2 separate regions of the Homo sapiens genome follow, and region 2 is linked to region 1. Evidence: fine-mapped expression QTL. A gene starts in region 1. The other region holds a variant in brackets. All regions are shown on one strand. Distances are between the middles of the regions. Region 1 holds the start of KLF7 (KLF transcription factor 7). Region 2 overlaps KLF7 (KLF transcription factor 7).

Region 1 (5,376 bases):
GTTTGCAGTATTTGCTTTGTAAAATTTTGGTTGAGTCCTTTTGCAAGTCAGACGGCTGATAGTTACATAGGAAAAGTCTCAATGGAAGCCTCCTCCTCCGGCCCCACCCAAGCAATTTTTGTAAACACACACTGACTTAAAGCTGAGGAACCCCATTTTTCACCATACAAAGCTCAGTACAGAACAGTGTGGGGAGTCAGATGCTCTTGGATTTGAACCCCTGCTTGACCACTTCCAGGTTGTGAGACCTTGACCAACTTACTTAGTATTTCCAAGCGTGGGTATCTTCATCCATAAAGTTGGGGATACTTTGGGGCTGTCCTTAAGATTAAATGAGACATTGCATATAAAGTGTTTATGCGCATACGGCACATTCGAAGTGCTTAATAAATGGGAACTATTATTTGTAAAATCTTCAAACTCACGTTAACCGATATGTCCTATTTTATTCAAAAATTGTTATAATGTAACACACACAAAATAAGTTCACTTGAGTCTCAAGTACCAAATTATATGGTTGGTCTTGCCTCACCTTTTGCCTCTAGTTTTCTATACCCAAGTTCCTTTCCTTCCCCTATTATTCATGAACATGTTTTTTGCCCTAGTGTTTCTCAATGGTTCCTGCCCATCCCCCCAGTTGAAATAGCATGGGGGTCAGGGGAGAGCATGGAGAAGGGGAGACCTTGTAACAAACTAGCAAGGGGTTTCTACCTTTCCTCTATCTCCAAGATTCTATTAATAGTATATTCTCCTAAAGGTCCTATTAGTTTACATAGCTCAAGTGGGGAGACAATGATAGCTAATATTTAGTATTCACCTAATAGTGTCAGATACTATGCTAGGTGAGTTACCAAAGATATTTTGACTCTTCATAACAACTAGACAACGCGGATCCCACTATTTCTGTTTCTGAGATGGGTAGATACAAGTTCTGACCCAGTAATTCGCTCAAAGTCGTGCAGCTAGTTAGCTGGCAGCGTCCTTGCACATCTAATTGCAGATGCATCTGCATCTACATTAGAGTAAATGTTCCAATTATACTCATACAATGAATGCTATGAATCTGGCCAACAGAATTCCAGACACTAACAAGTAAATAAATCAGGCTTTCCTCAATCCCAGTAATTCATGTTTAATATTCCTTGGCAAATACTGAATTTCAATCTGTGCTTATTTCATAGAGTAGAATCTTTCAAATGTTGTGTTATCGAGTCCTACATAGTCAAAGGGAGGGGAAAGACAAGGAGGGTGATTAAGGTGAAGCGTTTCTTCCATTACTGGTAGAACGAAGTTTCTCATCTCTTAAGCACCGAATTCTGCAATCATTCCAAAAGTGGAAGCTCAGCTCACAGCGCATTTTGGGGAAGCTTAAACCACACTAACCATTTAAGGTCAAGCAAACAATTGGCCAACCCTAACGTGAATTGTGCAGGGTTTTCATCTCAGATGTAACAGATCTCTCTATGTCTACATCCCAACTCCAGAAAACGAGAAATCGAGTTCCTCCTCTCACCATCGAAGCTCTGCAGACACCTCGCTGGAGACCCCATGGTGAGCCTCATCACGTAAAGGCCCCCTCGCAAGCTGCCGGCTCCAGCTTGCGCCCCACGTCTACCTAGGCTCCCTCTAGCCTCTTTAACGCACAGTCGAGCAACAGGCCCCTTGCAATCAACTCTAGCCGCCGGACTCCCGACCAGGTCTCTCGCTCGGGGTCAGAAGGAGGCGCGGGAGGGAGGGCGGCGGCGGCGGCGCCCGCGGGGCGGGGCGGGGACTGTGCGCAAGCGGGGGGCGGGCGCAGGCCGCGGTCTCGCTCCGCTCCCCTTTGTTCTCTCCCATTGTGTGGCACTTCCTCCTCAGGCGCTTCTTCTCTGCACCCTGGCAGCCCGTGGGGAGTTCGGGAAGGGGCCCTGGATGCCTTTTCTGCTTGTTTTTGAGTACGTGAGGACCTCCCCGGCACCGCCTCGCGCGGGTCCCTGCCCCGTGCCCAGGCGGAGGCGGGGTGGCCACTGTCCTTCCTTCCCGCTCCGCGCCCTCGGCGGCTTCCCCGCGGCCCCCTGCGCCGCGCCCCCTCCAGGAGGCGTCCTGACCCCGCACTCCGGCCTTTCACCTCCCGACCGTCAGCCTCAGGGCCGCCGCGGCGACGCGCGACCCCTTCCCTCTGAGGGGCGCGGGCTCCGGACGCGCCGGGCTCTGCCAGGCATCTAGTGGAGGGTCGGAGGTCGGCGACCAGCCCGAGCCCAGCCGTCCCGGGAGCTGGCGCGAGTGTCGCCACGACCCTCCCTGTCCCTTGCGCTCGCGCTGCCCGGCCGCCGGGCGGCCGCCTCAGCCCCCTTATATAGCCCTCTAAAAATAGCTCGCCTCGCACCGCCTTGTAAGGCAGCAGGGAGATCCGCAGCGTGCCAATCCGCGCCCGCCGCCAGGGCCAAGCCCCGCCCCAGGCTCTGCTCCGGGCTCCCCATTGGTCCTCAGTGACTTCATGAGCCCCCTGTTTACCTTACATGGTCACACGCGGCCTAATGGACGCCCTCCTCGAGATCCCACGGCTGCGCGGAGAACCGAACGGAGGGAGGGAGTTTGGGGAGGGGGAAGAGCAGGAGGAGGAGAAAAGGGAGGGGGAAGACTACAAACTAGCAAGGATGGGGTGGGGGGTGGGGAGGGAAGGGAAGGGGGGGGAAGAGAAGCGATCGCGAGAGAAAAAAATGCAACCTCCCAAAATAAAGAGCAAAGATTGCATTAGGAGCGAACAGCGCTGCAGAAATAGATGGCAGCTTCGTGTCAGTGAGTTTGCATCCCCCTTCCTGATCCACGAGCTGGAGTGATTAGAGCCCTGGAAGGGAATTGTTACTCCCGTGGAGAAGTCCCCTTTTCCTGGCAGTCGTCTGCACTGTACACGCTGGATGCCTCTCTCCATCCACCCCACTCACTCGCTCCTCTCTCACCTCCTCTCTCCCTCTCCTGCATTGATTTTTTTTTTTCCTTTTTAGTTGACTGAAACAAAACAAAACAAAAGGGCCACTGGATGTCTGCCTTCTTGGGGGGTGAGCCAGACAGACTGACAAACAAACAGCCCCAACTGTGTTCGGGGGAGGGTTTCGCCTCCCGTTTTGCCCGGCAGCAGCAGCATGGACGTGTTGGCTAGTTATAGTATATTCCAGGAGCTACAACTTGTCCACGACACCGGCTACTTCTCAGCTTTACCATCCCTGGAGGAGACCTGGCAGCAGGTGAATGATTTAAATTACTTGTGTAAATCGTGTGGTGGCGGCGGAGACGCAGGGGCTGCGTTGGTGTGGGCTCTGGGTTGAAATTTTTGTTTGTTTGTTTGACTTTTTTTTCTTCCTTTTTGGCTGTCTGTTGTTGAAAATGTTTTCTGAAACAGTCATCTGCGCTTACCTCTCCACCCACCCCTAACCTCGTAGAGTGCCGAGCTGAGCAGCCGGTGCGAGCTGCCTGCGTTTCAGTCGCCAACACACATCCCTGCGCACACGTTGTCGGGTTTGCTGTCCCCTATCAGAGACCTGCCGAACTTCTGGGGTTCGGAGGAGCCGGGTGGGAAGGTGGTTTGGGGTGTTAGGAGCGATTGCTGACAGGGACCACGTTCTCGCATGCATGAGCTCTACCCACTTGATACCTGAAATCAGGTTCATCTGTTTCAACTGGTGCTTATGACCATCGGATGGGGGGCGGGGGAGGGTGGGCAGGAGCAAAGCGGAGTGTTTTTCAGTAATTAGCGAGTGTCAATAAAGAATAGGAGCTTGATTTTGAGATTAGAAGGTAGGCAAAAGAGAGAAGAGCCCACTGACAAAAGATACTCAAGGAGGACGGGAAGATGTAGCTGAGGCTGACAATGAATTGTAGGTTTTCCCAGTGTGATCCCTCCAGAAAGAGAACACCCTCTATGCGTGTCCTTGTTTCTCTTTTTTGTTTAGGGTCCTTCTCTAGTTAGGCAGCACAACCTCGGACAAAGGCTGATGTGTGCTTCCATGCCTTTGACTTTGTCTTAGAGGACTAGTTAAGAAACTCCCAGGATGCTGAAGGGCACCGATGCCAAGTTGGCTAGCCGTCCCAGGGAGGATGAAGTGGGGCTGGTGACAAGTTCACTGGGCTTTGTGAAGTGGAATAAAGAAAGTGCTGGTCAGTGGAAAGTGCTGGCTCTGCTGCGGAAACAGTGGTTTTTTTCAGCAGCGATTAGGAGCTGCTGAGGGGACATTCTGCAGGAAAGATGGTGGGTGGGGGCGGGGGGACACGGGTATTTAAAAATTGTACAGTGTGCACCATGGAAAGTCCAAGAAGACAGTCCGGATTTGCACATAGGAAGTGTGAACTTGTACAGTCCGTCCTGGAGAAACCCGCTTGCCCTTGGGGGGAGGGCTGTGAGAGGCTCGGTGTGTGGCTGCTCGTGTAATTTCTTCGCTTAGTGACAGCAGCTTGTTAAGGCTAATGAACGGCTGAATTTCCTCTGCCGGGATCCAAAGCAGGATTTGCCAGCTTGAGGCTGAGATGTAACAGTCTCTGCTTTAGCAAAAGAGGTTTGGCTTTTGGTATAAGGAGCCGAGTGGCAAGGCGGATCCTTTAACTGTACCATTGTTGCTAGTTCACTTCTGGTCAGAGGCTGTGAGTTTTCCTCCAGGTATTGGCGTCTGGTGTCTCTGTGTCCACACATGCATTCTTGTCCAAGGACGCTAGCAGATGCTTGACTCTGTCTCTCTGTAAACACATACACAGTTCACATATTTTTAGAATAAAGTCTTTCTTCAATGCATCCTTTTCCTTATCCTTAACGAGAGTGTGTCTCATGAAGGGTCTCACTGGATCTTTTTCTTCCTTTTATTTCCAATGCTAATTAAACCAAAATCTTCTGAAATAGCCTTCATTTCACACTGTCAGCCCACTGGTATGGAATCGGTTGCATATTAACAACTGTCTAGACAGGTTAGAGAAGGGAATCTGTTGATTTAGTCAGCCTGCCCAAGGCAGCCCTTGTTTGTGACTAACTGTTAAGCAGTGTTAGAAGGAAGAAAGTTGGCTTTATTTGTTAGAACGTTCCCTACTGATGAATCATGCAACTTTGTTTTGGTTCAAGTTTTCAGAGTAGTAAAGCCAGATTTGGAGGAAGGTCTCTTCACAGGAAACCTGCTTTTCTAGATCTGGCTAGACCATCCAGGACAAACTCTAGATCTGCAAAGAAACATCATCGGTTTGACAACTAGAGGATGTATTAGATCTATTGTTTCCTAAGAAGCCATCTCTGCTCTTCCTTCTCCCCTCCTCCCCCTGCTCCTCTGCCTCCTCCCCATTCAGGGAAGCTCTAGTTTAGTTTCTACAGGCAAAGGATTTTTCACCCCTCGGAACCCCCTCATTTTTTGCCTTAACCCT
Region 2 (5,376 bases), 87 kb after region 1:
AGAGTGTCTGATAAGCCTGTAAGTAGTATCACAAGCAGTATTTCTAGGCTTTCATTGTAAAGTTTAGGGTTGAAATCTGGGTGTTGAAATTTCAAAGTTCCACCCTTTGATGATATAGACTAATTATTCTTTATTATATTTACAGTATGCAGGCATGACACAGGTTTCAAAAGCACTTTCCCATTCTTCTTTAATAATCACAATTATGATCATAACAGTTAACATGCACTGAGATCCTACGATGTGCCAGTCCGTATTCTAAGTACCTTGCATAGATCATCTCATTTAATCCTCACAACCCACCTATGAGGTAAATGCTATAATTATCCCCACTCTACTGAGGAGGAATTAAAGTACAGACAGGTTAATGTGCTCCGAGTCACACAGCTATTGGAAGAGATAGGATTTAAACCCAAACATTTTGTCCCTTAAACTTACCTTCCCAACACATGGCCCTGTTTCTCAATGCATGTGCACTGTCTCTGTTTAAAGTAAGGGAAATCATTTCCTAAGGAGTGATGCAAGTCAAGCTGTTTGCTGGGAGTTCTCTAATATCCTTGTTGTTTATATCTCCTAGGTGTTTTTCCAGGTCTGACCATCTTGCCCTCCACATGAAGAGACATATCTAAAAAACCGAAAGGCCAGAGTTGCCATGGCATCGGCTAGTGTCTAAAGGAAACGCCATGAGGCAGGGGGCTGGACTTCAGGCGGGGACCCATTGCCTCGCAGAAGAAAGTTCTCACTTATAAACCTCTGTACACACACACACACACACACACATATACACACACTCACAGACCCACACACATACACACTGTCATGCACTCAACTATATTTAAAATATATACGTCTATTCTTTATGCCTTGCCCTAGCCAGATGGAAGAAGATGAAGAAGGAAACCAGGTGAACTCAGCAAGGCAGACTGGCTGCTTACTTCAGCACTATTGGAATTATTTCCCGCTGTTGCCAATGGAAATCAAAGAAAATGGATGTGACGTCTGTGCAGGTGGACGGCAGTCCGAGGGGCTTATTTCACTTGCTTCTCAGTGCAACTTGATAGGAGAATCCAGCATCTTAAAGTTGCATATGTGTAGCACTAATGTTTCTTTTTAAATAGTTGGGGGAAAATGACCTAGAAAACCAAATTGCAGTTTGGTAGCCAAAATTAACTCTTGGTTTATTTGTCCTTTGTGTGTGAAAAGTCCTACTATTCCGTGCGTCAGACTTCCTCACAGAACTGTTGACTGGTTTTGGTTCTTAGTACTATTGAGATCTTTCGCGTCGATCCCAACGGCCTTAGCGGCGGCAGACTGGAATAACACCTTACACCTTTCTGGCCTGCATTTCTGTAGACTTCACTCTCAAGGGAGGAGTTTTCTTTTCTTACGTTTTGACTTTTGCACACCATATGCACTAGGGATTCTGGAAACTTCTAGCATGACTGCAAAGTGGCCAAGAGAATAAAGTCCTTGATGATAAATCACAGTATATCCCTTGAGCCTCACCTTATTGCCAGTGCTAGATTTTTTCTTTTTAATCTCTCCGTTTTTGCTAACGAAAACTTGAAAAGCTTATTTGGAAGCTTAAATGTTTTATCTTTTCTCCATGGACTAAACCTCTCCAGGACTCTCTCGGCACCTGGATGTCCAGCTCTCGAAGCAGCCAGTCAGATGGGACATCACAGTTCTCTCATCCTCCTTGAGGCATGATGACCTCAGCTCATAGTGATCAACCGTTGTGCTGTGTGTCATTGCTACCCCATAACCAGTTACAGCATAGATGTCGCTAGTCTCAGAGGGCAGCTGCGTATTTAATTTAACTCTGGTTTATGACCTGACAAAAAGCCAAAAATATCACTCTTTCCAGGAGTGGGGAAAACTGAGGATGCCTCCCAAGTCTAGTGGCTTCACAAAAGATCATCCTGTCTTCTCTGTCATGCCCACTGAGCTCCTATTCCCCTACGTGTTACAATACACAATTTAAAACGCCATTGTGGGAGTGAAGGGTTGACATTTAAGGAAAAGGTTGAGGTGTTTCTCTCATGGGCTGTCTAAAAGGAGAGACACGTTTCTTTCTTTCCTTTTTTTTTTGGCTAGGCCCACCATGACTTGTGACCTAGAACCCCCAGGATTAACAGAGGCCTCACATTTACTCTGCAAGCTGACTCCAAAGGAGTCTACAGTCCTTACTTGTCATGCCACACTCACACATCCAGTAGTGGTCTCTATCTACCCGCATTCCTAGCTAGCTGGCACTGGCCTCAACTCCAAAGACTGCCTTTAGGACCATCAAATGGCCTATGCAAGCAAGCGGGGTGGTTATTAGGACAGATTGTATATTTTGTATATTCTGGGACCATCCCTTCAAGACACGTCTATAAAACAAAAATGGCGCTTGGTCCACACACGGTTGCTGCTCCCTCCTACCAGCTGGCTCCCCTCCTGTCCTCCTTTGACTGTTTGACTCATTGACTGTTAAAATGCCACCCCATACATATTTGGGATGCAAAACTGAAGTCAAAAGGAAATAATATAAGAAACACAAACACATATATGACAGCAACCTTCAAGATCTGGGTTTTCAGCTTTCTGCAACCTTTGTTTTCACTGAAATGTTGAAACTACTCGTCTGAGGGCAAAGGAACCTCCTCACAAATGCTATAGCTGCCAATTGGACACTTGGGGCATTTCGAGGTCTGGCCCTAAGAATTTACTTTCTCCTTTTCCTTTTTTCTATTTAGACCAAAAAAAACAAAAACAAAAACAAAAAAAAAAACAAAATAATACAAAACGAAAAAAAAAGAA[AGAAC/C]ACCCGTTAACACACACGCGCACACACACACAAAATCTGTCCATTTGCCGGAGGCAATTGTATGTATGTTAGTTGGAGGGTATTAAAAATCAGTTTTATTCCAAAGATTTAAAACTAGACATGACTTAAAAACAATTTCTGGAGCACTGCTTGCTGACAATCTCGTAGTTCTCTGCTGCATTTGAGTGCATTTTGTGGCCAGTCCATCAGGGCGTACCATGGGATTATATTTGAATGTGTGGTGCATCCTTCCTGGATGAAGGATGTGTGAGGGACCTTGAACCTCAGCTGTATTAAACTGTAGCGCCTCCAGTCAGTGCACTAGATGAAACTTTTAGACACCCTGAATTCTGTTGGTTCCTTTCTTTTCCTTTATGTAGCAGCCTCCAGCATGAATGCACGCACACGCCAGTGATGGCATTAAGCCATGGCCACCACGATTTGCAAATGTTCTCTCCCAAGCTGGAGCTGCTCTTGCCTCTCGAATGCTATTATTAAGGGTTTATAATACTTAATTTAATTTTCGAACTGACCAATGCAAGGCTCTATTAAAAAGAAAGTTTAAAAAATGCAAAAGAGTAATCATTGCTTGTTTGCTCCCTATTTTCATCTGTGGTCTCATTTGAATGTGGCAGAACAAAGGCCCTTTGGTCCTCATCAGTGTCTGAAATGTTCAGTAATTTCTCTCTCTTTTGTATCAGTGAGGTCCTTTGTAATCTGCTCCTGACCTTTCTTGGAGCAGGGTGCATTGAAACTCAATGGTGGTGCTTGCTTGCTTCAGAGTCATTTGTTGACTGTGAGAATTGGCCTAAGAATTTGGTGGGTGCTAAGTGGATGGCTTTGAAACTGTTCTTCTTTAGCCGAGTTGACACCTGTGAATGATGACCAGTCCTGATCATTTTGGAAATGGATTTGTAATAAAACGTCCATCACCTCTGCAGTGGCAGAGATGGTTACTAAGAGCCGCTAGAGCGAGCAGGTTTTCCAAGAAGTAACCTGAAGACATTTTGCTCCCAAGAGGACTGGTTATTTAAAACAGTGCATTAATGGACATTTGAAACACATTAAACCCCTTTCTCATTTCAGTTGTTACCTCCTAACCCTCCAGGGGATCCCAAATTTGAAAGGAAAAACCCGGCCTGGTGTTTCTGGTGGTGTCCTAACAAGCACGCTTTTATCCAGGGTTCAGATTTGTTCATGTAGAAAAAGAGTTTCTAAGCCACTGACAATTTTTTTTTTTTGTAATTTCAAATTATACTTCTTTCTCCTGCCACATGACTGTAAGTCATAGACATGGAAACCTGAAATTATAATGCTGCTCCTAGCTACTGGCCTCCTGCCCCACCCATGGTTAATGGCTCAGCTCAATGCCTGGTGGTAATGAGTATTATGTCCAGAAAAAGAGATGTTCAGATTCCATGACAAAGCTGCATTTTTGTAAAAATATTGGAGACCCCAAAATGAACTTCATGCTGACCATTTCCTCCTCTCTGTGTGCTTTCCCTTGCAAAGCCCTTCAAATATCCTCTTCTCTCGACGCCATCTCCTCTCCACCTGCACCTCTTGTGCCCTTTGTACATCTTTGATTGCCTGATGATAACAGGGTAAAAGGACAGCCAACCTCATGCCTGATTAGCAGAACTGAATCCTAGTTTTAAAAAATCTTCTCTGGCTTCAGAGAAGATTTTATAAGGACTTTTGTTTGGGATAAGCTTTCCAGATTATCCATGTCTATTTGCATCAAAGGGGAAAGAAATGGGGCTTTTGGATGGCTCTTCCAGTGCATTCGGAACATTGCCTCTTGCCTTTATTCCTGCATTTTATGGCAAAGCCAAAAGAAACTCAAGTTGCAAGAACAAAACCCAGTGACTCGTTTTGATGGTTCAAAATGGTTTCCTTTATGGAAGTCACTTCATAAAATGTTAAGTAAAAAGTGGGAAGTGCTTCTGTCTTCTCTTTTGCATGAGTTGCTTTTAGGAGCAGGAAGAAGGTAGGCAAAGTAAGATAAAGATGCAACACATTTAACTACAAAAATCAGGTTCATTTTTTAGTTTATTAGAATTTTTTTGAAATCTTAAGAGGGCCAGCATTTCTGGCTACAATTTTGCACCCAGAACATTGCCAAAATGAACATTCAGTAAATAGAACCTGATTGAAATTTACTCCTGGAAGCTTTCCTTTGCATTTTCGGGAAGTGGCCACCTGCCAAGCGCAAGAGTTGGGGGGCAGGAGGGGAGGACTCAAATTCAGGGTGTCTGGATTAAATTTCGGTGAACATGGTGATATCTCAGTTTGAAAACTAGAGGGCCTATCCTGAGTATACATCAATGTCTCTTTGATGGCCTACTTTCCTCAGTGAGGATCTTTGGGAATACTTGAGATGGAACAACAGAAATGTGTGAAAGGAAGCAGAAACTTCTTGTAAATAACGTGACCTCCCACGACGAACTGCCTGAGGCTTCAGGGTTTTTTCTTGCTTTTAACACTCTTAAATCTCCTCTGTTGGTTCCTAATAGATCCCAGAAAAGGGAAAAATAAAGCTGCAGTTAACTTTCTTATGTGCATCC

The links.
Region 2: its variant is fine-mapped to the expression of KLF7 in whole blood (INTERVAL, PIP above 0.99).

What each region holds. Positions count from the first base shown.
Region 1 is chr2:207,163,315-207,168,690 of GRCh38, reverse strand. KLF7 (KLF transcription factor 7) reads left to right here and starts at 2,743. Exons shown (of 4, transcript NM_003709.4): 1 at 2,743-3,224. The coding sequence starts at 3,123. It overlaps MIR7845 (microRNA 7845), which reads right to left and starts at 2,291; the gene lies at 2,193-2,291. RefSeq lists silencers at 1,232-1,281, 1,902-2,541 and enhancers at 899-1,607, 1,608-2,315, 2,316-3,024, 3,032-3,131, 3,733-4,441 and 1 more.
Region 2 is chr2:207,076,466-207,081,841 of GRCh38, reverse strand. KLF7 (KLF transcription factor 7) reads left to right here. Exons shown (of 4, transcript NM_003709.4): 4 at 578-5,376. The coding sequence ends at 629. Among named protein-coding and RNA genes, the nearest start is that of MIR2355, 31 kb to the left of the region's middle. The variant AGAAC/C (reference allele first, on the strand shown) is at 2,806.